Homo sapiens: one gene and its partners. The protein of the gene in region 1 purifies or fractionates together with the protein of each later gene. This does not show direct contact. Each region holds a gene or a part of one and is shown in the gene's direction. Other genes may lie near its edges. The genes, in order: CHRM3, USP46, NOCT, FTSJ1, FARP2, HEATR3 and STX18.

What was found.
Region 2: the proteins of CHRM3 (region 1) and USP46 purify together in Homo sapiens (affinity purification with mass spectrometry; 2 studies listed by BioGRID and IntAct, with this or other methods). This does not show direct contact.
Region 3: the proteins of CHRM3 (region 1) and NOCT purify together in Homo sapiens (affinity purification with mass spectrometry; 2 studies listed by BioGRID and IntAct, with this or other methods). This does not show direct contact.
Region 4: the proteins of CHRM3 (region 1) and FTSJ1 purify together in Homo sapiens (affinity purification with mass spectrometry; 2 studies listed by BioGRID and IntAct, with this or other methods). This does not show direct contact.
Region 5: the proteins of CHRM3 (region 1) and FARP2 purify together in Homo sapiens (affinity purification with mass spectrometry; 2 studies listed by BioGRID and IntAct, with this or other methods). This does not show direct contact.
Region 6: the proteins of CHRM3 (region 1) and HEATR3 purify together in Homo sapiens (affinity purification with mass spectrometry; 2 studies listed by BioGRID and IntAct, with this or other methods). This does not show direct contact.
Region 7: the proteins of CHRM3 (region 1) and STX18 purify together in Homo sapiens (affinity purification with mass spectrometry; 2 studies listed by BioGRID and IntAct, with this or other methods). This does not show direct contact.

What each region holds. Positions count from the first base shown.
Region 1 is NC_000001.11:239,907,568-239,911,617, forward strand, and holds part of CHRM3 (muscarinic acetylcholine receptor M3), read left to right. Parts: coding exon 1-1,657; 3' UTR 1,658-4,050.
Region 2 is NC_000004.12:52,648,873-52,652,922, reverse strand, and holds part of USP46 (ubiquitin carboxyl-terminal hydrolase 46), read left to right. Parts: intron 1-4,050. UniProt on the Homo sapiens protein: Deubiquitinating enzyme that plays a role in behavior, possibly by regulating GABA action. May act by mediating the deubiquitination of GAD1/GAD67.
Region 3 is NC_000004.12:139,021,943-139,025,992, forward strand, and holds part of NOCT (nocturnin), read left to right. Parts: intron 1-4,050. UniProt on the Homo sapiens protein: Phosphatase which catalyzes the conversion of NADP(+) to NAD(+) and of NADPH to NADH. Shows a small preference for NADPH over NADP(+). Represses translation and promotes degradation of target mRNA molecules.
Region 4 is NC_000023.11:48,482,699-48,486,748, forward strand, and holds the end of FTSJ1 (tRNA (cytidine(32)/guanosine(34)-2'-O)-methyltransferase), read left to right. Parts: coding exon 1-96; coding exon of another isoform or gene 97-153; exon of another isoform or gene 154-256; intron 257-287; coding exon 288-320; 3' UTR 321-329; intron 330-542; exon of another isoform or gene 543-643; intron 644-3,037; 3' UTR 3,038-3,652; downstream 3,653-4,050. UniProt on the Homo sapiens protein: Methylates the 2'-O-ribose of nucleotides at positions 32 and 34 of the tRNA anticodon loop of substrate tRNAs. Requisite for faithful cytoplasmic translation.
Region 5 is NC_000002.12:241,484,964-241,489,013, forward strand, and holds part of FARP2 (FERM, ARHGEF and pleckstrin domain-containing protein 2), read left to right. Parts: intron 1-4,050. UniProt on the Homo sapiens protein: Functions as a guanine nucleotide exchange factor that activates RAC1. May have relatively low activity. Plays a role in the response to class 3 semaphorins and remodeling of the actin cytoskeleton.
Region 6 is NC_000016.10:50,082,761-50,086,810, forward strand, and holds part of HEATR3 (HEAT repeat-containing protein 3), read left to right. Parts: intron 1-1,176; coding exon 1,177-1,267; intron 1,268-1,347; exon of another isoform or gene 1,348-1,373; coding exon 1,374-1,531; intron 1,532-1,808; coding exon 1,809-1,891; intron 1,892-3,454; coding exon 3,455-3,591; intron 3,592-4,050. UniProt on the Homo sapiens protein: Plays a role in ribosome biogenesis and in nuclear import of the 60S ribosomal protein L5/large ribosomal subunit protein uL18 (RPL5). Required for proper erythrocyte maturation.
Region 7 is NC_000004.12:4,437,207-4,441,256, reverse strand, and holds part of STX18 (syntaxin-18), read left to right. Parts: intron 1-2,747; coding exon 2,748-2,863; intron 2,864-4,050. UniProt on the Homo sapiens protein: Syntaxin that may be involved in targeting and fusion of Golgi-derived retrograde transport vesicles with the ER.

The sequences.
Region 1 (4,050 bases):
CTACAATGTTTCTCGAGCAGCTGGCAATTTCTCCTCTCCAGACGGTACCACCGATGACCCTCTGGGAGGTCATACCGTCTGGCAAGTGGTCTTCATCGCTTTCTTAACGGGCATCCTGGCCTTGGTGACCATCATCGGCAACATCCTGGTAATTGTGTCATTTAAGGTCAACAAGCAGCTGAAGACGGTCAACAACTACTTCCTCTTAAGCCTGGCCTGTGCCGATCTGATTATCGGGGTCATTTCAATGAATCTGTTTACGACCTACATCATCATGAATCGATGGGCCTTAGGGAACTTGGCCTGTGACCTCTGGCTTGCCATTGACTACGTAGCCAGCAATGCCTCTGTTATGAATCTTCTGGTCATCAGCTTTGACAGATACTTTTCCATCACGAGGCCGCTCACGTACCGAGCCAAACGAACAACAAAGAGAGCCGGTGTGATGATCGGTCTGGCTTGGGTCATCTCCTTTGTCCTTTGGGCTCCTGCCATCTTGTTCTGGCAATACTTTGTTGGAAAGAGAACTGTGCCTCCGGGAGAGTGCTTCATTCAGTTCCTCAGTGAGCCCACCATTACTTTTGGCACAGCCATCGCTGCTTTTTATATGCCTGTCACCATTATGACTATTTTATACTGGAGGATCTATAAGGAAACTGAAAAGCGTACCAAAGAGCTTGCTGGCCTGCAAGCCTCTGGGACAGAGGCAGAGACAGAAAACTTTGTCCACCCCACGGGCAGTTCTCGAAGCTGCAGCAGTTACGAACTTCAACAGCAAAGCATGAAACGCTCCAACAGGAGGAAGTATGGCCGCTGCCACTTCTGGTTCACAACCAAGAGCTGGAAACCCAGCTCCGAGCAGATGGACCAAGACCACAGCAGCAGTGACAGTTGGAACAACAATGATGCTGCTGCCTCCCTGGAGAACTCCGCCTCCTCCGACGAGGAGGACATTGGCTCCGAGACGAGAGCCATCTACTCCATCGTGCTCAAGCTTCCGGGTCACAGCACCATCCTCAACTCCACCAAGTTACCCTCATCGGACAACCTGCAGGTGCCTGAGGAGGAGCTGGGGATGGTGGACTTGGAGAGGAAAGCCGACAAGCTGCAGGCCCAGAAGAGCGTGGACGATGGAGGCAGTTTTCCAAAAAGCTTCTCCAAGCTTCCCATCCAGCTAGAGTCAGCCGTGGACACAGCTAAGACTTCTGACGTCAACTCCTCAGTGGGTAAGAGCACGGCCACTCTACCTCTGTCCTTCAAGGAAGCCACTCTGGCCAAGAGGTTTGCTCTGAAGACCAGAAGTCAGATCACTAAGCGGAAAAGGATGTCCCTGGTCAAGGAGAAGAAAGCGGCCCAGACCCTCAGTGCGATCTTGCTTGCCTTCATCATCACTTGGACCCCATACAACATCATGGTTCTGGTGAACACCTTTTGTGACAGCTGCATACCCAAAACCTTTTGGAATCTGGGCTACTGGCTGTGCTACATCAACAGCACCGTGAACCCCGTGTGCTATGCTCTGTGCAACAAAACATTCAGAACCACTTTCAAGATGCTGCTGCTGTGCCAGTGTGACAAAAAAAAGAGGCGCAAGCAGCAGTACCAGCAGAGACAGTCGGTCATTTTTCACAAGCGCGCACCCGAGCAGGCCTTGTAGAATGAGGTTGTATCAATAGCAGTGACAAAACGCACACATCAACCCACAGACCTTAGGAGGAGGAAGGCGAGGGCGGGGTGACTTCTGGTGATGATAAAAATGGTTTTATCACCCAGATGTGAAAGAAGCTGCCTGTTTACTGATCCATTGAATAAACCCATTTTAATAGAAAAAGTCAATACCAATTCAGCAAAAAGAAAAAAAAAACATACTACTGAATATAAAGAAATTTATTCTGAAATAGACTTTACGTGTTTTTTTCTTAAAGAGGAGAAAAATATTGCTTGACGGCAATTATATACCCAAAGTGATTTGCCTGGGTCCTTTAATTCCCATTAGCTTTGGAATCTCAGATGAGCATAGCTGACCCAGTTCCCACATTCTTCCCAAGGATCCCAAAAGTGGGAATCCAGACCCCAAGTGGAACACTGCAGGCTTACGAATCTGTGGTTCCAAAATTATTTCATACGTTGCAAAGCTGAATCTTCTTGTCCCAATAGAGCTTCCTGTCTTTTCTTTGGTGTGTTGTTAAACTCTATTTGTGGACTTGATTCTTGATTCTTGCAAAGTACTGTTTTGTGCAGTTCAAGTTTCGTACAAATAAAAATACTTAAGTATATATATATGTGTGAGTTCTGCACGCACACACATAGTGTATATAATATCATGGGAAACACTGAACTGGCAAATTATTCCTGCAACATACGCTTTCAGTACTTTGGTAACTGAAGTTCTCTAGGATCCTAATGCAACATTAACGTGAAATAAGCCCAGTGTAATGTTTTTGAAACCAGGGCTGTTTTCCACAGAGAGCAGCCAGGCCTTCCCAGCAGGTCTGTGCAGAGCGGACAGGCTCGTGAGTCAGCTGAGCGCCGTGGCTTCGCCAGACTTGGTGTTAAGCAACCTCCTTTGTTGATGTCTCAACAGAGCTAAATCGGGGCCCCTCTGAGCTCAAAGAATGAACCACATCCACACGTTTGAATTTAATCATCTAAATCTGAATGTTTCAGAACAAAATTTCTGCTATCTAAACTGCTTGAAACTCAATAATAGTGTCACGTTTGAATGTCATACACAGCAATATATATATATGTGTATATATATATATATGGCAAAGCAAAAAAAAAAACATGGTAAGAGAGAATGAAGGAGAACATTGTGTTTGATTCTTGCTGAATGGCACCTTCTCAAAGAAAATAGGGCTTGCACCTTTGTTAATCAGCTGTGGCCAGTGCTTTCTGGTGTTCATTGTGTAACCTTCACCCAGGAATAGGTGAGGTTTTAGGAAGTTACATGTCCTCTGAAGAAAGAATTACACTCTGAAAAGTAATGCTTCAAATTGATTTCCTTACCTTTTGGGAAAAAAAAAAAATTGTTTTTTTGCATTCTCCCTTGAATTGACCAAAATGTTAACTGTTTCATTTGGGGAGGGGATGGGGTGCTGCCATCATTGTCGTTGTTGTTGCTGCTGTAGCTGTTGGGGTTTCTTTTCCTGTTGCCGGGGCTGTTTGGGGAGAGGGAGGGGAGGGAGGTGGGAGGGCCGCGGAGATATCTTCCCTTTGTACAGGGCATTCGTGTTGTGAACCCAGAGCTGGGTAGAAGCTGCTTTTGTATTCAGTGTGAGGTGGTGTTTACAGACGACTTTGACAACAGTAGAAGTGTACTCAGTGGTGTCTGTGTATCTGAACTATTTAATTTCGTGTTATGTTTATATGCAGAAATATTTATGGATACTACACCAAGTGTTTATTTAATGTTGATAAATATGACTCTTCAGTCGTCAGCCATGGTGTCCTTTCAAAGTGATTCTTTAAGGTCCACTTGAGCAATGAATAGAGTATATTGGAGCTTTCCTGTGGCTAAGAAGAAGAAACATGTCATCCTGTTGGCATCACCAAGCACCTAACTCTTTCTAGGTAATAAAAAGTCAACGGTCACTTCAACGTAAATGTTTAAAACCACTCTTTAGTTAAATCTGATGGGAACTGAACAAAGCTCCACCATTGTGTCTGAAATCATTTTACACAGGGAAAAAAAAAAACAATCAGCATAATTGTAAGAATGATTTTTTTGGGCCCACATTCAACCAAAGAACAAGAAAGAAACAGACGATTTTCTAATATGTACACAGCAAACTACAGAATGTCATATTATCCACCTGTGAAACATCTAGTAAGCAATTGCATCTATATTTTATTTCTCAAGTTGGCCTGGCACTAATAAATATGTGAAAGCTTATTCAAGTGTCCCAGTACTTCAGCACTTCCCATCCTTTTGGAAACTCCTATCTTGCCTCCCTCCCAAAAGGGCTGTTTCTTTTATTAAAAAAAAAAAAGAAATAGAATTAAATTTGAGAAAAGGAGAAACCCTGAAATTTAACAGAACTTTGAGAG
Region 2 (4,050 bases), on another chromosome or scaffold:
TTGCCTTTTTTTCTGAGTGATGGTGAATTTTAGACATACAGAAATGTGGAATAATAGAGTGAATACTCGTGTACTCCCCACCCAGTGAAGAAATAAAATACTATATATACATTTAAAACCACCTATGAGTCCTTCCTGATCTCATTGCCTCTCCCCACAGAGTGACCACTATTCTGCATTTAGTGTTTATTGTATATTTTTATATTTTTACTAGATTTGTATGCATTCATAAACTAGATATAGTGTATTTTTTCATGTTTTAAACATGCTTTATAATATTAAACATTCCTCTCAGTTTGCTTTTATTGTTTAAATTGTGATTTTGCTATTTATCCATTGAGAGACACATAATCCTAGTTTATTTTAACTGCTGTATAACATTCCATTATATAAATATGCTATGACACATTCATTTTAATGTTGTAAGCAGGTTTACAAATTTGTGAGTGTGCTGTTTTAATGCAATGAACAGTTGTGAACTCATCTCCCTGTGTATAGTATACACAGTTGACAGTTGACAGTTTCTCTGTGGTGTAAACCTGGAAGGGAATTGCTGGGTCAAAGGAATTTGATCGTCTTCTTTAATAAGTTGCCTGATTGCTCTCCAAAGAAGTTATGCCAATTTGCATTCCAACCAAGCAGCGTTTGGGGGTTCCAGTTGCTTCACATGTTTGCAGATATTTGATATTGCTAGACTTGATGTTTTGCCAGTCTGATGGGTGTGACATTGTGCCTTTGTGGTTTAAAATTTGCACTTTTCCTGTTTGCTAGGGGAGGTTGAACATCTTTTCATGTGTTTGTTATGCTGGTTTGTTTTCAACTCAGGGGCCTGAGAACAGTTTTCCAGGTCTTGAAAGTCAGGATTGTAGTTTTGGTTTTGTCTGAAAACAGGGACAATGAAGAAGGGACAGTGAAGAGGAAAATCAAGGAGACCAAAGCAAAAGTCATGAAAGGTAGGGATGGATTGGAAGATGCAGGTGAAAAAAATGATGACAAGATAATCACTGTGGAGGGGTGAAAACTAGTAACAAAAAGATAATAGAGTAGCACTGAGAAGATACCTTGAATTTTGAGAGTAAATTTGGGAGACCTGCCTGTGCCAGCAAGGCCTTGTTCAAGCCACATTTGCTTTGTTTAATTGACATTGGCTTTAGTGAAAATCGTGTCTGGGGCCTGTTCTGGTGAGAACAGCAGCAAAGCTGGACTTGCAGAGTTTTCCTGTTTACCCAGTTGCTTTTTCAAGTTCTTTTAGAAAGGCATTGTGAAACGATGGTCATCTTCCTAAAATACATTTCTCTGTCCTTCAGGTTAGGTACACAGTGCAGGAAAATTTTTATCTGGATCTGCTTGAATATATACTGGTGGAATTACTGTCTTAAATATTTAGAAAGTATTCTCTACACTTCATTTTAATTTTCAGAGTATGATGAGTATTACCTCATTAAACAAAGAAATGTATGGTTTTAGGTTCTTTGGTGTACCAAAGAATGGTTCCCACATGTGCATTCTCTTATTAAAAATTTAGACTCTGGGGTTCAACACCCAGAGAGTTTGATTAAGTAGGTCTTAGTTGGGGCTCTGGAATCTGCCTTTTAAATTAGTGTTCCCTCCTCCTTCTACTCCCTCCACATTCTGTTATAGGTGAGCTGAGGACCATGCTTGGAGAAATATTGCTTCCCTTGGGTAATAACCTCAGCCTCTTAAAAAATATTGCTTAAGAAATTACCTGCCATGTGAAAGTTTTTAAAAAAATGAATGTAAAATTATTTAAGCTAGTAACTTAACTTTTTCTGTTCTTTTTTCTCTTTCTTTCTTTTTTTTTTTTTTTTTTGAGATGGAGTCTCACTCTGTTGCCAGGCTGGAGTACAGTGGCATGATCTCAGCTCACTGCAACCTCTGCTTCCAGGTTCAAGCGATTCTCCTGCCTCAGCCTCCTGAGTAGGGTACTACAGGCACGTGCCCCCTTGCCCAGCTAATTTTGTATTTTTAGTAGAGACAGGGTTTCACCATGTTGCCTGGGATGGTCTTGATCTCTTGACCTCGTGATCCGCCCACCTTGGCCTCCCAAAGTACTGGGATTACAGGCGTGAGCCACTGCACCCGGCCAACTTAACTTTTTCTTGGTATTAAATAGCCAGGTTTTGTATTAGTTTATATATTCAGAACAGAGATTTTCAGCACTGGCTTTATATCATATCACCTGTGAAGCTTTTAAAAGAAATTTTAAAAATAATAATTAAATCACAAAACATTAACATACAAAAAAGCATGAAAAAATAATGTTATATATGTTTACCTACCCTTCAGATTTAACAGATATTAAAATGTAGCCATATTTGGTTACTTTTATTTTTAGACATATTACTGTAAAAACAGCACTAACTCTTTTTAGACTCTTTTACCTTAAAAACAGACACTAACTCAACCCAATCTCTTTCCTTTCTCTTCCTCCCAGAGCAAACCATTTTCCTGAAGTTGATATGGTGTTTACCAAACATGTCTTATACTTTACTTTGTATTTATGAATTCATAAGCAATGGATTGCAACGTTTGTGTGTGGATAAAATCGTGTAGCTTTTTGCAACTGTCTTTCTTTACTCAACAAGTATATTTGAGATTATGTCAACACATAGAGGTCGAGTTTATTCATTCTGACTGCTCTGTAACAGGATTCTTTGACTTAACCATGGTTTACTTATTCATTCTCTTATTTAGGGGCAGTTTGGTAGTTTCTACAATATTCTCTCTGGAAACAGTGTTGCAGCGAATGTTCTTGCTTCTGTCTTCTTTGCTCAGGTGTCTTCATTTCTTTAGGGTATAATCCTGGAAGTCAATATGCTGCTTTTAGGATGCGCCCATCTGCAGCTTTGCTAGGTGTGTCAAATTGCTCTCCAAAGTGGTTCCACCAATTGGAGCTTTATTGACATGCAGTTTCTAGGGTCCCAGTCTCCAGCGTTTCTGACAGTATGTAGATATAGGTAGTCTGGGGTGAATTTTAGGCACCTGCGTGTGTATGTGTGTGTGTGTATTTTAAGTGCCACAGTTGATTCCGATGTGAGCATCCAAGGTTGATAAACCACCATGTTAGACTGACAACTCTATGAGGGCAGGAACTGTATTTATTTGTATTATTCAGTGTTGATTTCCCAGCTGTCAGCACAGTGCCTAGCACATATGTGGTTGGTGCTCAATAAATAAATATTGATAAATGAATGAAGGGATGTAATTTGGTAGAATGGAAGAATTGCCTTGGAGTAAAGCAGTATGCCTCCAATTTTATCATGCATAGGCATTAGCTGGAGGTCTAGTTGAAATGTCAATTTGGATTCAGCACGTCTGGGGCAGGGCGGAGATTTTGCACTTCTAACAAACTCTCTGGTGGTACAGATAATGCTGGTTTCGGGACCATTTTTAGAGCAGCAAGGCTTTGGGAAAAACAAAACAACTTCTATTTTCCATATAGTTGTAAAGTGGAGGAGTTTGGAATTCAGAATCCTGTTTGGTAAATCTCAGATCCTATTTATCTTTTTACAACAAAGGTAGTCAATGAAATACCTTCTTTAAAGCTTTTTGGGGAGCATCAGAAGAGATCCTGCCCATGGAAGCACTGTGTGAGCTATGATGCCTTCATGCTTGTTAGTTTTCATAATTATTCTCACTCTTTTAGTTCATCATTATTTTCCTTCTGTTTGCTCAAAGTGCAAAGCTGTTGGTATTTCAGGATCCAGTGAAATTCTACTTCCATTTTGACCTGCTGTCCACATTTAGTGGGGCACTTTGGGAGGAGTGACATTGGGGAAGGAAGTTGGCAAAAGCAGAGGCCAAATTCACAGCATGGTTTGGTTCTGACTGGGTGCTGTGGTGGTGAGGGGGCCCTGTGGCCCTGTTTCTGTGGTATTGGGAGACACGGGTAGAGAGAGGCCCACAGGACTCTTCTAATCATTGCTGTAGTGGATGACAGGACAACAGGAAACTGTCTAATTGGGTTCCCAAGTCAGATACTTTTCAAAGAGAAAAGAATGCTCAGAGTAATTATAAAATATTAATTGA
Region 3 (4,050 bases), on another chromosome or scaffold:
GAGACAGGGTTTCACCATGTTGGTCAGGCTCCTCTCGAACTCCTGACCTCAGGTGATACACCCGCCTTGGCCTCCCAGAGTGCTGGGATTACAGGTGTGAGCCACCACGCCCGGCCACTAATTAGAGTTTATAGGGCTTTGATAGCCACTTAAGTGGTGGTTATACTTCAGTAGATAATTAGAAATTTGAAGGACAGTGTGCCTGGGCGTTTAGCCTCATAGTAAACCTGTTTGGACTTCCACGGAAAGCAGCTAAGATACTTTTTATTTATTGTTATTCTTAGAATGGGAGAAAATCAGCCTTCCCACGGAGGGAGTGAGACCTCAAGTGAAAACCTTAGCTGTCCTCTGTATCTATGTGGCCTCAAAGCAACACTTGAATCATATATTAATACTTAGCAAGAATTCAGTGTCAGGTATGTGGGCAACAGTGCCCAGGGGAAAGAAGGCTAAACAAAATTGGTACCATCCAATTTGAATGTCCTTATAACAATTTTTTTCTCCTTCCAGTATATAAAAAAATGCGTGGGTCCCATTCAGATCTTCTGGATTTTAATATCTCCAAGTGGGGCCTGAGCATCTGCTGATTCTGACATAGGCTCCGGGTAGACAACAGCCACATATTGACAACACAGGCGGACACCTGTGAGGAGGCTCGTTTTACTAAATGCTTAGAAGCCTATTCTAAGTCTCTCAGTGATGTGATTCTCCTGTCCAAAAGTTAGAGACCACTGTTGGATTGTGGAGAGTTGTGCAGAAAGGAAAATATTTATTTTATTTATTGTAGAGACAGGGTCTCACTGTGTTGCCCAGGCTGCTCTTGAGCTCTTGGCAAGTCCATGAAAATAAGTGCTTAGAAGTTACGATGCTGCCCGGGTACCGTGGCTCATGCCTGTAATCCCAGCACTTTGGGAGGCCAAGGAGGTGGGGGGAATCACTTGAGGTTAGGAGTTCGAGACCAGCCTGGGCAGCATGGCAAAAACCCCATCTTTATGAAAAATGTAAAAATTAGCCGGGTGTTGGTGGTGTGTGCCTGTAATCCCAGCTATTCGGGAGGCTGAGGCAGGAGAATTGCTTGAACCAGGGAGGTGGAGGTTGCAGCTAGCTGAGATCGTACCACTGTACTACAGCCTGGGCAACACAGCAAGACTCCATCTCAAAAAAAAAAAAGAAGTTATGATGCATCCAAAGTGACAATAAGAATTGTTCCGGAAGGATATCTGGGAAATTCCTTGGTCTTGATGCATCCTTTCTAGCTGTCTTCCTTTCCCTTTTCTATCTTTCCTCCAACTCTGAGGTTCCAGTACTTAAACAGCTCTGTTTGCCGATCTGCAAATATGCTTGTGACTGCAAATATCTTGTCTAGTACAGGGTGCAAAGTAAGTTACACTGCAGATTCTAATAATACCTGGGATATAATACTTTTCTATTTCCTCTTGTGTGTTTTGCTTTTATGGATGCTAATTATCATTGAAGGTCTGCTGAAGGAAAATGTTTATCTTTCAAATCTTGTAGGTCAAATAGACTCTCTGAGACTTAGTTCTAGAATTAGTTTAATATTTTATTTTTTTGAGATGGAGTCTTGCTCTGTTCCTCAAGCTGGAGTACGATGGCGCGATGTCAGCTCACTGCAACCTCCGTCTCCCGGGTTCAAGCGATTCTCCTGCCTCAGCCTCCCGAGTAGCTGGGGATTACAGGCCCCTGCCACCATGCCCTGCTAATTTTTTGTATTTTTAGTAGAGACGGGGTTTTGCCATGTTGGTCAGGCTGTTCTCGAACTCCTGACCTCAGGTGATACACCCGCCTCGGCCTCTCAAAGTGCTGGGATTACAGGCACCATGCCCGGCCTTGCCTCTGAACTTTTAAAGACCATTGTGAGTATTGATTATCTGTAGAAGCTTACAAGATTTCCTTATCTTTGGTATTCAAAAGATCCATCAGGTTGAATGTCTCAGCATCTGATGCGCCCATCCAATCTAAAGACATGCCTTAGCACATTAAAAGTTTGTATCGGTTGTCTACTGTATTGTCTCTTGTTCTCATGTTCTTGAACTCCTGTTAGATTGTTGGCCATATGGATCTATCCTCCGTGTCTATTCATCCTTTTTTTTTTTTTTTTTTTTTAAATTATTTTAGAGACAGAGTCTCCACTTTGTCACCCAGGCTGGAGTGCACTGGTGTGATCATAGCTCACTGTAACCTCCAACTCCTGGGCTGAAGTGATCCTCCCACTTCAGCCTCTGAAGTAGCTGGGACTATAGGTGTGCTCCACCATGCCTACCTACTTTTATTTTTTTGTAGAGACACGGGTCTCAGCTCAGACTGGTCTCAAACTCCTGGGCTCAAGCAGTCCATCTGCTTCTGCCTCCCAAAGTACTGGATTACAAGCATGAGGCACCTAGCCAGGCCTCCATTCATATTTTAGTGTTTTTATCTCTTCTCTGTTGCATGAGATTTTCTGAAAATTTTTGTTCTGCAGTCATTTTAAATTCCTAGACATTTCTAGTTGTTTAATTGCTCCTTTTTTCATAGAAACCTGTTTTGTGTCTATAATGTCTCTCGTACTTTAAATATATCAAGATGTGTGTGTGCCTGTTTCTCCTTTAGGCCTCTTTCCTGGAGAGGAAGGGAGTTTTGCATGTTGTTTTATTTGTTTGTTTGTTTTTTGAGATGGGGTCTCGCTCTGTCACTCAGGCTGGAGTGCTGTGGCGTGATCTCAGCTCACTGCAGCCTCCATCAACCTGGTTCAAGCACTCCTCCCACCTCAGCCTCCCAAGTAGCTGGGACCACAGGCATGCACCATCATGCCTGGCCCAGTAATACAACAGTTACTGTATTTTTAGTAGAGACAGGTTTTCCCCGTGTTGGCCAGGCTGGTCCCAAACTGCTGAGCTCAAGTGATCGGCCCACCCCGGCATCCCAGAATACTGGCATTACAGGTGTGAGCCACCGCGCCCAGCCAGTTTTGCATGTTCTGAGTGGGAAGGTAATCTGGAGAACGGGCAGCCAGGCTTCCTTGTTGAATGCGTGAGAGGGAGCAGGCTGGTAACTACCGCCTTTGTCAAAGAAAGGAGGGTTTCCTTCTATATTCTTCAGTCCAACCCCTTCCCCGCTTTTTAAAACCATCCTTGAGTTTCAGAGTTAGCTCCTGATCTGGTCTGCTTCTCTTTCAGGTCCATTCACCTTTGCAAGCCATTCTAAGGCTATCACCCATTTTCTTTGGGGTATTCTTTGGTTCTATGGAGCAACCAAAAGCCACCCTTCCCGGCTTTGTCTGTGAGAGAGGGGACACATGTAACTAGTGCCACCGTTCACTTTCATTCTTGAACGAATTGCCCTAACAGTTACCCCCTCAGCTTCTCCTGCCCTTTCTATTTCTTGATTCAGCTTGGAGTTTCTTCAAGGTGCTCTTGGGAAAACCACATTTACCTTTGGTAACTTGTACTGCCCTTTCCTTCTGGTTTCTCTGTTAATTCAAACTTGTTTCTGTCTTCTTGGAATTCCTCCAAATATTTGCTCCATTGATGTCATGCATCCCTTCTTGTTTTCCAATGTTATTGATGCATTCTTTAAAAAATTTTAAAGAGGCCAGGCGCGGTGGCTCACGCCTGTAATCCCAGCACTTTGGGAGGCCAAGGCGGGCAGATTGGGAGTTCCAGACCAACCTGGCCAGCATAGTGAAACCCTGTCTCTACTAAAAATACAAAAATTAGCCATGCGTGGTGGCGGGTGCCTGTAATCCCATCAGCGACTCAGAAAGCTGAGGGAGGAGAATTGCTTGAACCTGGGAGGCAGAGGTTTCAGTGAGCCGAGATGGCGCCATTGCACTCCAGACTAGGCAACAGAGCGAGACTCCGTCTCAAAAAAAAAAAAAAAATTTAAATATAGGCACTTTATTTCTTCAAGATCTTAGGAAGGAGAGAAAGTAAATGTATTTTCTACTTTGCTGTCTTGGCCTAGAACCAACCTGCCCAATGATATGCAACATATTCTTTTTTTAATATGTGCCTTAACTATTCAAGCAATGCACTGGGAATTTGTATATGAAAA
Region 4 (4,050 bases), on another chromosome or scaffold:
AAGGAGATCCGCCCCCAGGACTGCCCCATCAGCAGAGTGGACACGTTTCCCCAGCCCCTGGCCGCCCCTCAGTGCCACACCCTGCTGGCCCCTGAGGTCTGGAAATGTGACTCTCAGCCTGCCTTGACCCCTTCCCCGTGTGCCTTTTTCTGACCCAAATCTCATGGTTTCTGGGGCCAAAATTCCCTTTCCTGCCTCCCAATAGCTATAAAAAATTGGTAAAGCCAAGCATAATGAATGGAAAAGTTTCGCCAAATATGTGAGTCACTTTTCTTTTTCTTGGGTAGATGGAAGACAATGAAATGAGTTGTTCACCTTAACCCATTACGGTAAGTTTGCCTTGTTATCTAAGAGTTTGAGTAAGGGCAACCTTTATGAAAAACCTCAGTAAAATTTCACCTTTGAAATTTTTATGTCAACTGATAAGATTTTAATCAACAAACCCTTTTCTAAACATCTGTTGTTGTATGCCAGGAACTGCTTTAAGCATTTTACATTTGAGGCATTCAGTAAACATTTATTGAGCACATACTGTATGTCAGGTGTTGTTCTAGGTTTGGAGATAGAGCAGGGAGCAAAACAGAAATATCTTGGCTCTCACAGTACTTCCAGTTTGGAAAAGAGGCAACAATCAAAACAGTCTGTAAGTGCAAGAGTTTACATACACATATATACTATATAGCTTGCATTTCTCAATTTACATATCTTGCAATATATATAATATATAAGAGTAATATGGGATATAAAAAATAGAAAAAAGTAAAGCAGGGTGAAGAGAATCAGGAATTCTAGGCATGGCAGTTTTCATCTTTTGGTGTTTTTGTTTTGAGACAAGGTCTCACTCTGTCGCCCAGGCTGGAGTTCAGTGGTGTGATTTCCCGGGCTCAAAAAATCCTCCCACCTCAGCCTCTCAAGTAGCTGGGACTACAGGCATGTACCACCATGCCTAGCAAATTTTTGTATTTTTAGGGGAGATGGAGTTTTGCCATGTTGCCCAGGCTGGTCTCGATCTACTGGGCTCGAGCGATCTGCCATCCTCGGCCTCCCAAAGTACCAGGATTACAGGCATGAGCCACTGCGCCCAGCCAGTTTGCACTTTTTAAAAGGGTTGTCATAGAAGGCCTCAGACATTCCTCAGAGGTAATGTTTGAGCAAAGACCTGAAGGCACTGCCGGAGGGAAGCCATGTGTTTATCTGAGGGAAGAGCATTCTGGGTAAAGGAAATAGGCATGTCCCAAAGGTGGAACTGCACGTGGTATGGGAGGAAAGTTTATCCATAGCCAAATGTTCTAAAACCACGATGTTAGAGGATGGCCCTTTCTGACAATGGCATAGCAGGTTATTCAGACTAAGTCAGCCATCACAAAAAGCCACCTTTTTTTTTTTCTTGAGACAGAGTCTTACTCTGTTACCCAGGCTGGAGTGCAGTGGCATGATCTCAGCTCACGGCAACCTCCATCTACCAAGTTCAAGCGATTCTCCTGCCTCAGCCTCCCAAATAGCTGGGATTACAGTGCCCGCCACTATGCATGGCTAATTTTTGTATTTTTAGTAGAGATGGGGTTTTGCCATGTTGACCAGACTGGTCTCAAACTCGTGACCTCAGGTGATCCACCTGCCTCGGCCTCCCAAAGTGTTGGGATTACAGGTGTGAGCCACCACACCTGGCCTTTTTTGTTTTGTTTTTTGTTTTGTTTTGAGAACAGAGTCTCGCTCTGTCGCCCAGGCTGGGTGGAGTGCAGTGGCACTATCTCAGCTCACTCCAACCTCCGCCTCCCGGGTTCAAGAGATTCTCCTGCCTCAGCCTCCTGAGTAGCTGGGATTACAGACGTGTGCTCCCACCTCACCCGGCTAATTTTTGTATTTTTAGTAGAGACGGGGTTTCACCATGTTGGCCAGGCTGGTCTCAAACTCCTGACCTCACAAAATCTGCCTGCCTCAGGCCTCCCAAAGTGCTGGGATTACAGGCCTGAGCCACCACACCTGGCCACAAGAAGCCACCTTAAGAAAAAATTGAAACAGCAAATCATTGTGTGAAAGAGATTTACAGTTTTTAATATTTAAAGGGTCCTGTAAATCAATAAGGAAAAACATGAGAGTGGCCAGTAAGCACATGAAAAGCTGCTCATCAGGAAAATACAAGTGAAAACTCAAAATATCAACAACACTAAGTATTTGAAAGGATATGCAGCAATTGAAAGCCTCGTACATGCTACTGGGAAGGTAAAATGGTGCAGCCACTGTGGAAACTTAGGCATTACCTACTAAAGCTGCATGTGTGCCAGTTCCACTCCTAAGAAATGAGTCCTAGAGGCCGGGTGCCGTGGCTCAACGCCTGTAATCCCAGCACTTTGGGAGGCCGAGGTGGGTGGATCACCTGAGGTCAGGAGTTCAAGACCAGCCTGACCAACATGGCAAAACCCCATCTCTACTAAAAATACAAAAATTAACCGGGCATGGTGGCGGGCACCTGTAATCCCAGCTACTCAGGAGGCTGAGGCAGGAGAATCACTTGAACCTGGGAGGTGGAGGTTGCAGTGAGCTGAGATCGTGCCACTGCACTCCAGCCTGGGTGACAGAGTCAGACTCCATCTCAAAAAAAAGGAAATGAGTCCTAGAGTGTTGCTAGCAGCACTATCTATAGTATATGCCCATTAAATCGTGGTACATTCACCGTGGAGAACTGTACAACAATGACAGTGAACATCCTGCAATTACACCAAATAACACCTTGTAGTTATTCATTAAACTGAACATATATAGGTTTTATGCATTTTCTATATGTCATGGTTCACCATAAAAGGAGGAAATGTCACAAAAATGTTAGCAGCAGAGTTAGCTAGGTGTGGTGGCACATTCCTGCCTGTAATCCCAGCTACTTGGGAGGCTGAGGTGGGAGGATCACTTGAGCTTGGGAGGTTAAGGTTGTCGTGAGCTATGATGGAGCTCCACTGCACTCCAGCCTGGGTGACAGAGCAAGACCCTGTCTCTAAAAAAACAAAACAAAACAAAAAAACTTTCTTTGACTTTTGGTTAGCTGGCAAACTGATACAACTCAGAAACTGCTCAATGTCAGGAAAACCGGAACTTGTTGATGAACTTGTTTTCAAAATATCATCTCATCAACGAGGCCTGGACAAACAAGCCCTGAGGAGGGATCTGCAACAACCCTGAAGACAACAAGGAAAGAAACCATGAAAGTCTGTCTGTACTGCAGTGGGAATTCTTGAGTGAGGTCTTACCTCTTCTTTAAACCTCTTCAGGAGTGTCCTGATTATGTCCAGAATTTTCCCTAAAGGCAGGGATTCTTAACCTGGATAGAAGCCAGGGGTAACCATGAACTTGATGGAAGAAAATGTTACATCTTTATTTTCAGCAATGAAACTGAAATTTAGCCTTACTCCCAAGTTATAAATGCTGGCAACAAATCACAGTAGTAAAAGCAGTACCTGGGATTTTCCCACCAATACAAACCAGTTACAGCAACTGTAATGTAACATAAAAAGGGCATCTTGAAGTATTGTTCATATTTGTCACCTCTTGGAATGATAGCAGATCCTGTAAGTTGATGTATTAATTAAAAAGCCCATATATTACTGCATCTCAATTTTGTTTCAATTTAATATATAGTAATAATTGTAATTCAATGTAATTGGCTTCCATTGTAATTGTGTGTGTGTGTATGTGTATGTATATACTTTTAAAAATATTCTGTGAAGGGGTTCACAGATTTAACCAGATGCCAAAGGGTTCTGCAGAACAAATTTATTTATTTATTTTGAGACAGAATTTCGCTCTGTCACCCAGGCTGGAGTGCAGTGGTGTGATCTTGGCTCACTGCAACCTCTGCCTCCTGGGTTCAAGCGATTCTCCTGCCTCAGCCTCCCGAGTAACTGGGATTACAGGCACCCGCCACCACACCCGGCTAATTTTCGTATTTTTAGTAGAGACGGGGTTTCACCATTTTGTCCAGGCTGGTCTCGAACTCCTGACCTCAGGTGATCCACCCACCTCGGCCTCCCAAAGTGCTGGGATTACATGCGTGAACCA
Region 5 (4,050 bases), on another chromosome or scaffold:
ACCACGTCACAGTGACTGTCTCTCCCCATGGGCCTGCCAGGGCGCCAAGGACAGGGGCTCTAATCCCCAGCTCTGCCCTATCCCTCTTGGCTTATTTGCCTTGACTACAGTGCTACAGTGGTCCTCACTCCCTCCTTGTGGTCCTCCCTGTCAGTGATCTTCTCTCCTTGAGATCCTCCCTTCTTGTAATCTTCCCTCCCTGGGGTCCTCCCTCCCTCCCCAAGGTCCTTCCTCACTCCCTGTGGTCTTCCCTCTCTGGTGTCTTTCCTCCCTGTAGTCCTCCCTCCCTGGGATCCTCCTTTCCTAGGATCTTCCCTCCCTAGAGTCCTCCCTCCCTCCCTGGGATCTTCCCTTCCTGGGATCTTCCCTCATTCCCTGGGATCTTCCCTTCCTAGGATCTTCCCTCCCTCTCTGGCATCTTCCCTCCCTGTGGTCCTCCCTCCCTGGGATCCTCCTTTCCTAGGATCTTCCCTTCCTAGAGTCCTCCCTCCCTCCCTGGGATCTTCCCTCCATCGGCTTCTCCCTCCCTCCCTGAGGTCCTCCCTCACTCCCTGTGATCTCCCCTTCCTGGGATCTTCCCTCCCTGGGGTCCTCCTTCCCTAGGATCTTCCCTTCCTGGAGTCCTCCCTTGCTCCCTGTAGTCCTCTCTCCCTGGGATATTCCCTCCCTGGAGTCCTCCCTCCCTGAGGTCCTCCCTCACTCCCTGTGATCTTCCCTTCCTGGGATCTCCCTCCCTGGGGTCCTCCTTCCCTAGGATCTTCCCTTCCTGGGGTCCTCCTTTGCTCCCTGTGGTCCTCCCTCCCTGGGATTTTCCCTCCCCATGGTCTTCCTCCCCCAGGGCCCTCCCCCAGTAGGGTCCTCCTTCCCTGAGATCCTCTCTCCCTGGGGTCCTCCCTCCCTGGAGTCCTTCCTCCCCCAGTGGGGTCCTCCCTCCCTGGGGTCCTCTTTCCCTGTTCTTTCTTCAAGGGTCTTATCCCTCTGCACTGCCTCCTCCTGACAATGAGCGCCAAAACCCTCAGGCAGGTGTTTGTAAAATTTAATTCCACTTCTCAGGCCCTCAGCAAGAAGAGGTCAGTTTGAATTAGCTCATCTGCCACCACCGGAAGCAGACCCCATTTGTTTTAAAGTATACTTTTAAAAATTACACCTTTATTATAGAAAAAAATAATTGAAAGTATAAGACAGAAATCACTCATCACTGGCCAGTTGCTGTGGCTCACGCCTGTAATGCCAGCACTTTAGGAGGTCAAGATGGTAGGATCGCTTGAAGCTGAGAGTTTGAGACCTGCCTGGGGAACATGGCGAAGCCAAATCTCCAAAAATCTTTTTTTTTTTTTTTTTTTTTTAATTAGCTGAGCAAAAGTGGTGTGTGCCTGTAGTCCCAGCTACTTGGGAGGCTGAGATGGGAGAATCACTTAAGCCCAGGAGGTCAAGGCTGTAGTGAGCCGTGATCGTACCACTGCACTCCAGCCCCAGTGACAGAGTGAGACCTCGTCTCAAAAAAAAAAAAAAAAAAAAAAAAAACACAGAGAAAAGAAACAAGAAAAAGAACTCTATCATCGTACCCACTCAGCAGTGATGGCTGCAGGCATCTGCTGCATGGTTGCCATCACCCACGGGCTGTTTTGTCAGGACACTGGTTTTCCTTTCCTTTCATGGCAGCCCCAGTTCACTTAACTAGTCACCTGTCACTGGACGCTTGGCTGTGGCTGGTTGTTGAGGACTGTAACATTGTTGGATCTCTGTCTTTCTGCACATCCTTAATTATGTCCTTCAGATCAATTCCAAAATGTAGATTTGTCTGAGCAAAGGTGTTTACGGCCTTGGGCACTCCTGCTAAATTGCTGTTGGAGCACCTGCGCCAGCTGACCTTCCCACCTGCAGGAGCTAGGTCTAAACATGCATCTTTCCCTCCACCATGGAAAGTGCTAGGCACCTGTCTCTCTTACTCTTCCCAAGTGGGTAAGGTAAGCAGCCCCATCGAGCAGCCCCATCATTTCACTTTGCATCCCTGCGGACTGTCGGTGAGGCCAGCCTGGCCCCTGTGTCCTGGCATTCCATGCTTTTCCTCTCAGGAATCACTCAGCGTGCTGGTCACTCTGGTCTCCATTGGTCTGTGAGTTTTTTGTACACATTAGTGAAATGTTTATATGATAATGCTCACCAACACTATTAAGTCACAAATTATTTTCTCAGTAACTGCTTTTTACTTTGCCTACAATTTAGTTTTACCTTGTAGAATTTAAACTCCATCTTGATGGGTTCTGTTTCTCTTACTCTAGAATGGCATCTGGCACATATAGGGAACCCAGCAAATGCTTGTTGAAGGTGTGAATTGAAACAGACACTCCTCAACTTATGATGGGGCTATGCCCTGATAAACCCATTGTAAGAGGAAAATAGTATAGTCAAAAATGCATTTAACAGGGCACGGTGGCTCACGTCTGTAATCCCAGCACTTTGGGAGGCTGAGGTGGGTGAATCACCTAAGGTCAGGAGTTTAAGACCAGCCTGGCCAACAGGGCGAAACCCTGTCTCTACTAAAAATACAAAAATTAGCCAGGCGTGGTGGTGGGCACCTGTAGTCCCAACTACTCGGGAGGCTAAGCACAAGAATCACTTGAACCTGGGAGGCGGAGGTTGCACTGAGCCGAGATCACACCACTGCACTCCAGCCTGGGTGACAGAACAAGACTCCCTCTCAAAAAAAAAAAAAAGAAAGAAAAGAAAATGCATTTAATACACTTAACCTCTCTGATGTCATAGCTTAGCCTAGCCTACTCTTTTTTTTTTTTTTTTTTTTTGAGATGGAATCGCTCTGTCGCCCAGGCTGGAGTGCAGTGGTGCCATCTTGGCTCTCTGCAAGCTCCACCTCCCGGGTTCACGCCATTCTCCTACCTCAGCTTCCTGAGTAGCTGGGACTACAGGCGCCCGCCACCACGCCTGGCTAATTTTTTGTATTTTTTAGTAGAGACGGGGTTTCACCGTGTTAGGCAGGATGGTCTCGATCTCCTGACCTCGTGATCCACCCGCCTCGGCCTCCCAAAGTGCTGGGATTACAGGCGTGAGCCAGCCTAGCCTACTCTAAATGTGCTCAGAACATACATTAGCTTACAGTTGGGCAAAATCATCTAATATGAAGCCTATTTTATAACAAAGTGTTGAATATCTCACATAATTTGTTGAATACCAAACTGGAAGTGAAAAACAGAATGGTCGTATGGGCACTTGAAGTTCCGTTTCTACTGAATGCTTATCACTTTCACACCATCATAAAGTTGAAAAATCAGGGCCTATCAGGGTCAGCTCTGGCTGTCTTTTCCTTGAGGGTTTCTATCCTTAGTATGGGCTCAGGAAGTTCTTCCCCATGCCAATATTATATTGGCACCTTTTAATGGTTTCAGTTTTCTCATTTAATTAATCTCCCTAGAATTTGTTTTTTTACTTTTTTGGTTTTTTTTTTTTTTTTTTTAGATGGAGTCTTGCTCTGTGTCCCAGGCTGGAGTGCCCAGGCACGATCTCGGCTCACTGCAAACTCCGCCTCCTGGGTTCACACCATTCTCCTGCCTCAGCCTCCCAAGTAGCTGGGACTACAGGTGGCTAATTTTTTGTATTTTTAGTAGAGACGGGGTTTCACCGTGTTAGCCAGGATGGTCTCGATCTCCTGACCTTGTGATCCGCCCGCCTCGGCCTCCCAAAGTGCTGGGATTACAGGTGTGAGCCACCGTGCCTGGCCTAGAATTTGTTTTGATAGATATTAGATTGAGATGTAACATTTCTCCCCATTATTTGTTGAATCCTTCATTTTCTCACTGATCTCAGACTTTATCAAATGGAAGCCTGTGTCTTTGCACTCGAGTTCTTTCTGGGCATTCTGCTCCATTCCTGTCTGTCCAGCATCAGTCCACTCTCTCTCATTAGTGGTGTCATATGAGATAGTCACTGTTTGGTGAACACATTCCATCCCTTATTCTGCCTCCTTTTAAAAAAGATTCTTTGCTATTCTCAAGCATTTAATTCTTCCAAGTAATCTTCTAAGTCATTGGACAA
Region 6 (4,050 bases), on another chromosome or scaffold:
AAAAAAAAAAAAAGCAGGTAAATTTTTTTTCTTTTTCTTTTTCTTTTTTTCTTTTTTTTTGAGATGGAGTCTCACTCTGTTGCACAGTGGTACAATCTCGGCTCACTGCAACCTCTGCCTCCTGGGTTCAAGGGATTCTCCTGCCTTGGCCTCCCAAGTAGCTGGGATTACAGGCATGCACCGCCATGCCTGGCTAAGACCTTGTCTCTACAAAAATTAAAAAAATTAGCCAGGCATGGTGGCATGCACCTGTAGCCCTAGCTACTCAGAGGCTGCGGCAAGAGGATTGCTTGAGTCCAGGAATTTGAGGCTGCAGTGAGCTATGAACGTGCCACTGCACTCCAGCCTAGGCAACAGAGTGAGACTCTGTCTCTAAGGGGGAAAAAAAAAGACAATTGAAAACTGAAGTTTGGAAATATTCAAATAGTAAAATATACATTATTTTTAGCTCATGTACTGTTTTGGAATATCAGTATGGTTATTTCACTTTCCATAGACAATTTGATAATTAAGGTTATATAAATTTATATTACCCATTTTAAGAAATGTTGGTTGATAATGTTAAGTTTAAGTTGGCGTTATATATTTTCAGAGAAAAAAAAAGCTTCCTTCTTTCTTTAGTCTTAGAGAAATGCTTTATTATAGTCTTTACAGAAAGGCAGGAAGCAAGTCTGTCTGCTCCATAGCAAGTTCTACAGGTCACATAAGGGCTCGTTAGTAGTGTGTGTTAGCGCAGCCATTCCAAGAAAGACATCTAAGCTAAGCATCTAAAAGCAGGTTTGGTGTTTCTAAGTGCCTGGTGTCTGAAATGAACTCTTGTTTAAATCTTAGTATGCCCAGCTACTTCTTGACACAGTAGATAAGTTTCAGGGTGAATTCTGTTCAGAATTCCTGAATATTTGTCTGTTCTCTCCAGCTAACTAAGTGACGCTTGGGGAATAGCCATGCAGATAGATGGAAACCCAGTTAACGGGGGCATGCTCCACTGTACCAAGAGGAATTATAATGCTCGTTTGTACTTCTGGCACTTCATGACTTTTCTTTTACCTACCCCATTCCCCGTGTGCTCTATTCCAAGCGCAAAAATCTTCTAGTAGGCTTTCACTAAGGAAATTCCCCAAAAACATTTTCCCAACCATTGAGAGTTGGTCATTTACTTTTTTTTTTTTTTTTAAGCCCACTGACAAGGAACTGAGAGAGACTATAGCATTGCTGACAGCCCAACAGACTGCTCTGGAAATTATTGTCAACATGTGCTGCAATGAAGGTTTGTTAACATTTACATTTAGACATTTTCCCCCTGAGCCAAGAGGGAAACTCCCGTGGAGATTTTCTTAACTATTCCAGTTCTGCGTGGTTTGCCCGCTTCCCAGATCCCTCTGATGACGAATGGGAAGAGCTTTCTAGCAGTGATGAAAGTGACGCATTTATGGAGAATTCCTTCAGTGAGTGCGGGGGACAGCTGTTTTCTCCCCTCTGCCTCTCCCATGAAGTTCACACGGCTCTCACCAACTACCTCATCCCAAAGAAGGTAATCCATTTTCATTCTAGGCTTACCGTGGAGCATGGGAAAGGCTTAAGCAAGGTATTCATTTTGTGTACAAAAGAAGCAAGCTCACACTTCCAGGTTGTAGATGGTGGTAAGATCTGAGACAAAGCTGAGCCTAACAGTACTGGAAATAGGCGAAAAGGTCATTCTATATGAAGCCTAACCATTTCACTTAGGAGTAATATGTTGGAATTATGTAAGGGAATCGTGTTAAATGACTACTCTTTAACCTTTGCTTTACTGCCTCTTTTAAATCTAGATTTTTGAGAAAACTGCCTTTCCAAACAGCATTGCAGTTGACCTATGTTCTAGGAACCCTACTTGGAAACCTTTGATTAGAAAGTAAGAACTCTTCTGCTTTCAAAAACATTTGTCATTATTTTATTTTATGAAATGATGGGCTATTAAATAGAAGGTGCTGACTCCCCCTAGGACCCAGAAGTTTTGTTCCTGGGTATATATACCAGAAAAATATGTGCCCACATGCCCTAGAATACATGTATATGAGAGTGTTCATAGCAGTGTGTGTCACAGTTGCCCCAACCCATAAACAAACGTGTTGTCCATCAGAGTTAGAATGGTAAATAAATTTTGACAAAATCACGCAGTACAATACATGCAGCAGTAAAAGGGATCTGAATTAGAGCTACTCACAACTCGGATGGAACTTACATTGTTGAACCAAAAAAGCGAGACATAAAAGAATACACACACTGTGATTCAGTTTTTACAAAGTTGAGAAACAGGCAACATTGAACTATTTTGTTCAGGGATGCATACCTTGGTGATAAACCTATTAAAAAAAAAAAGAGGCAAGGAAATGTTTACCATAGAAGTCTGTATGGTGCTTACCTGTAGGTGTCAGGGAGGTGGGATATTATATGGAAGAGATACAGGGGCTTTCAGGGTCCAGCAGTGTTAATTTCTTTCCCAGGTGCATGGGTTTTGGTTTCATAGACTGTTTGTTAAACTCTCTATGTATGTTGTGTACTTAACTGTATATATGTCACATTTCACAATTAAAAATAATTTTAGGCTGGGCATGGTGGCTCACACCTATAATCCCAGGACTCTGGGAGGCCAAGGTAGGAGGATCACTTGAGGCCAGGAGTTTGAAACCAGCCTGGGCAGCATAGCAAGACCCCATCTCTACAAAGGAAAAAAAAATACAAAAATTAGCCTGGCATAGTGGCACTCAGCTGTAGTCCTAGCTACTTAGGAGGCTGAAGTGGGAGGATTGCTTGAGCTCAGCAGTCTAAGGCTGTAGTGAGCTATGATGGTGACACTGTACTCCAGCCTGGGAAACAGAATGAGACCCTGTCTGAAGAAAATTATAATTTTAAGGATGCTACCCTACATAGAAATTTTTCTAAAACATATTCCTCATGACTCATGAATGAGTTGTGTATCAGAGGCCGTGAATATTCAAGCAGTTTGATTTGGCAGATTAACAGTTCACCTTATAATTCTAGCACTTTGGAAGGTACAGGCAGGAGGATTGTTTGAGGCCAAGAGTTCCAGAGCAGCCTGGGCAACATAGCAAGACCCCTATCTACAAAAAATAAAAAACTTAGCCAGGTGTGGTTGCATGCACATGTAATCCTGCTCCTTAGGAGGCTGAGGCAGGAGGATCACTTGTGCTCAGGAGGTTGAGGCTACAGCGAGCTGTGATCACACCACTGCACTCCAGCCTGGGCAACAGAGTAAGACCCTGTCTAAAAAATGATGATAAATTTTAGAAAACACAAAAAACAGTTCACCTTGTGATTCTTTGCTAACTGCCATAGATACCTTGTATTTACAGATATTTCCAGTCAGAACGTGAAGCTTAGGCTAAAAGTTAATACTGAATTCTGATGGGCAACTTCTGGAGAATCAGATGGCATTGTTTCACTTCCTTTCCAGAATGAACACTATTCAGTGCAGAGCCCTCTTCTGTCTCCAGAGTCTTGTGTCCCTCCTGGATGTGGAGCACCTGGGAGGAGCCGCAGCCCTTCAGACGCTTGCACAGCATCTGTCACAGCTGCTTTTTTCTCAACCAGGTATTTAGACTTTATTGCGAAAGACTACGCAGACGGAACAGAATTTTGAAGGGGCAGGAATTTGGATTTTGTAAATGTATATTGTTTGTCATCCAATGTGCAGAAACCTTTCCCAGACACAGGAATCATGTATTTATAGTTGCCATGGGGTACAGAGTCAAAACGAGGTATGCAAGCAGCTCCTGGGCTTATAATTTTCTTTTTTGTTAAAATTGTTTGCATCCAGTTATATCAGGCCAGTCAAGGCTGTATCATAAATATCATAAAGGCCTCATTAAGGTATTTGGATAATTCTCAGCCAAGCACGGTGGCTCATGCCTGTAGTCCCAGCACTTTGGGAGGCCGAGGCGGGAGGATCACCTCAGGTCAGGAGTTGGAGACCAGCCTGGCCAACATGATGAAACCGCTCTACTAAAATACAAAACTTTAACTGGGCGTGGTGGTGGAGATGCCTGTAAT
Region 7 (4,050 bases), on another chromosome or scaffold:
TGGAGTCTGTGTTTCTTCCCCTTGAACTCCAGTGGACCATCGTGAATGTGTTGGGCAGTAGAATATGGCCAGAATTATGATTTCTGACTTCTAAGGCTAGGTCATGAAAGGCACTGAAGCTTCCACCAAAGTCTTTAAGACTGCCAGCCCTGCAGGCAGCCAGCTGCCATGCACCAGTAACACACTCATGCAGCTCCATGAAGAAGAAATGAGGCTCCCAGCAAGCACCAACTTGCTAGCCATGTGTGTGGCCTCCTTGGAAGTGAACCCTCCAGCCCTGGTCAGCCCTTCAGATGACTGCAGCCCTAGTTGCCTTCTAACTGCACCCTCCTGAGACACACAGAGCCAGAACCACCCAGCCAAGGTGTTCCCAAATTCCTGACCCCAGAAGCAGTGATCAGTAATAAATCTCACTGTTTCAAGGCACTAAGTTTTATGACTCAGCTGTAGTAACCAGAACAATTAAAAAGATTGATAACAGTGACTTTTGAAAAAATTTTTTGTTAAATTTTGTAGAGGACCATTTCCTAAATAGTCTTTTTGAGAAAACTGCTCTCAAAAAACTCTGTGAAGAGAGTGTCTGCAATCAGGTTATTTGCAAATACCATCCTTTTTGGAAATTCAAAATGTATTTGAGCATATTAAAGGCTCTGAAAACTTATATAGTGAAACACCTTTCTAGCTTTGACTCAGCTTTCTCAGACTGATTCGACCACAGAAGTCCTTTCCCACAGCCCAGGATGGGTAGAATATACCCCACATGGAGCAGTTGTTACGAGCATGGGCTTCAGAGCTAGGTTCCCTGAGGTCATGTCCCAGCCCAGCCATTTGCTGACTGTGACCTGGGCAAGTTTCCTAACTTCTCTACACCTCAGTTTCCTCCTTTGTTAAAAGGTTGTTAATACTAGTACCTACCTGATGGGGATATTCGAAATTAAATAAATTTATCCATACAAATTGCTTAGAAAAAATGTCCACTATATGAGCCATTAACAAATGTTAGCTGGCATTAGTAATATCACCCTAATATGCATTTACATTGTTCCTTTAATTACAGTCTCTCTGCCTAACAATATGGAATTTATCCTAGATAGCACTCTGCCTATAATTTTATAGCATTTATGTAGATTCTAGTAAAGCTATTACAAAGCCTGTTATTGCATAACCTAAACGTTTTCTTATTAACCAGTTACTTGTATTTATAATGCACTCATTCATTCAACATATATTTATGCAATGGAATACCAGGCACTAATCCAGAATCTGGGATCTAGGAGCAAGGCTGACAACCAACAGATAAATAAACAGGGGGATTATAGACTGTGATAACTGCTATGGAGAAAACAGATGCAGAGGAGTGGGAGGCGGCCTTTCCTTCACAGAAGAGTCAGAGGTGGCCTCTCTGAGTAGGTGAAATTGAGCTGAGCCCTGTAGATGGGAAGGAAGACGATGCCCTGGGAAGAGCCCGTGGGGAAGAAACAGGGGAATGCCAAGTGCAGAGGACTCAGTCCTGAAACAAGTCTGTGCCTTCAAGTGGGTATTTAAGGACTTGTGCTTTCAGAGCTAACTTATATTAAGATGTGACTTAGAACATATACGTGTGTGGGTATAGGTATATATATGTGTGTGTATGAGTATATATGTTGGGGGGTATGTGTGTGGGGGTGTGTGTGTGTATATATATGGGTAGGGGGTATATATGTGTGTGTTTCTGTGTGTGTATGTGGGAGTATATGTGTATGTATATGTGGGGGTATATATGAGTGTGTGTGTGTATGTATATATGTGTATGTAGATATATGTGTGTGGGGGAGGGTATATGTGGGGGGTATATATACATATCTGCACATATATGGTGTGTGTGTGTATGTAGGGGGTATATATGTGAGTGGGGGGTATATATATGTAGTATATGTATGTGGGTGTGTATATATGGTATGTGTATATGTGTGGGTATGTGTGTGTATATATGTGTGTGTGTTTATGTGGGTGAGTATATGTGAATATATGTATGTGGTGTGTGTGTATATGTGGGGGATATACATGCATGTATGTATATATATGGGGTATGTGTGTATGTAGGGGGTTATATATGTGTGGGGGGTATATATATGTGGTATATATATTGTGTGTATACATGTGGGGGTATGTGTGTGGGGGTATATGTGTGGTGGTATATATGTGTGTGGGTATATATGTGGGAGGGTATGTATATATGTGTGCATGGGTATATATATGTGGTATATATGTGTGTGTGTGGTGTGTGTATATGTGTGGGTATACATGTGTTGGGGGTATATATGTGTGTGGGGGTATATATATATATATGAATATATGTATAATATGTATTATATATTATTATTAATAACATACTCAGCAATCTTTTTGCATTAGTGTCAACTACTGGGTAAGCATCAATCCAGCTTCCTGGGTTTGTTGAGTGCGGTGTGTCAGTCTATGGAGCGTATTCAGCACATACCAACTGCAGCCTCCCCCTGCATGCTGGTCACTGTGCCGTGGCTGCAAATGCAGAGGGCATGCACAATCTCTACCCTGCAGGCAATAATGCCAGTGTTAAGTGCCCCAGTGGAGGTGTGTCCGGATGGCCACTGGGCCCAGAGGCAGTGACTGCTCCCCAGTACAGGGACACAGAGCAAAAGCGCAGGGTCACATGTGACTCCTTCTGTTTTCAAAAAGGAATCCTGTTATGGAAATAAAATACCTGCCTGCTAATTATTTATTTTTAGATCTAAGCTGGAACCAGAACCAAATACAAAGACAAGAGAATCCACATCTTCTGAGAAAGTTTCACAGAGTCCTTCAAAAGACTCTGAAGAAAACCCTGCCACTGAAGAACGTCCAGGTACGAATTGAGATGAAAATCTCACCTTGCATTTCTTCCTTGTGACATGTTGGCAAGAGTACAGCACAGGAACGAAGTAGCACAGTCTCAGACATGTTTTGGTGTTTGTATTTGCATAAAGCAAAGGAAGCAGGAGGCGGCAGCCTTTGTGTCTGTCACAGTTGATCTTCGTGAGTGCCACAGAGGCAGGGGGTGCATTCACCCAGTCACCTGGGAGCTGGCGGGGTCCGGGAGAAAGGGCCTGCTGGAGGGGTGAGGCCGGGAGCTGTCTGCCTCAGGAGCCCTGTGTGCCGGCCTCAGGAGAGGCAGCATTGCCTCCCTGGCAGCCATGCCCTGCATGTCAGCTCTGAGCTGCCAGGCCTGCATCCGGGTAGAGTGTATAACCTCAGCAGCCTTGCACAGCCAGTCAAACCAACAGGACAAAATGCAAATCTGAATTGACGTGCTGCCTATCACCACAGATACTAGAGGGCCCATGGCTTAGAATAGTTCCTGATGCACAGGAGATGCAGAAGAAATACAGGGTCTCCATGAAGTCCGAAAATGTAGGGGGACATACACAGTGTGGTCATGGATGTCTGCGATCTGTGTGTCTGGCTGGTACCCCTGCGTAGGGATGCCTGCATAGTTTGCCATATCTCAAAGGCAGAGTGGAGCAGGGTTCTTTGTGTGAATCACAGGGTGATGGCGTGCTGGAGCCAGGAGAGACCTGGGAGTCCCCTTTAGCATCCTTCTCCGTAGTCTCATGGCAGTTCTTATTAACTCTTGTCTTCCAGATGCTAGGCATGGTCCTGGACATGTCACAGAAATTACAGGTTGAGTATCTCTTATCTGAAATGCTTGGGACCAGAAGTGTTTTGGATTTAGGGTTTTTTCAAATTTTTGCATATTTGCATTGTCCTTACCAGTTGAGCATCTCTAATCTGAAAACTAAAATCTGGAAAGCTCCAATGAGTATTTCCTTTGGGTGTCACATTGGAGCTCAATAAGTTTCAGGGATGTGATTCCTGCCCTCAGGGAGCTCACAGTTGATGGGAAAGATAAGGCTCTAGCCCCTGGGAGAAAGTAAGTAGTACCTCAAGAGAGAGCAGAGGGCCAGGGAGACTTCAAGAGGAGGTGGCACTAAGAAGTGAGTCTGGGCCAGGCGCAGTGGTTCACACCTGTAATCCCAGCACTTTGGGAGGCCA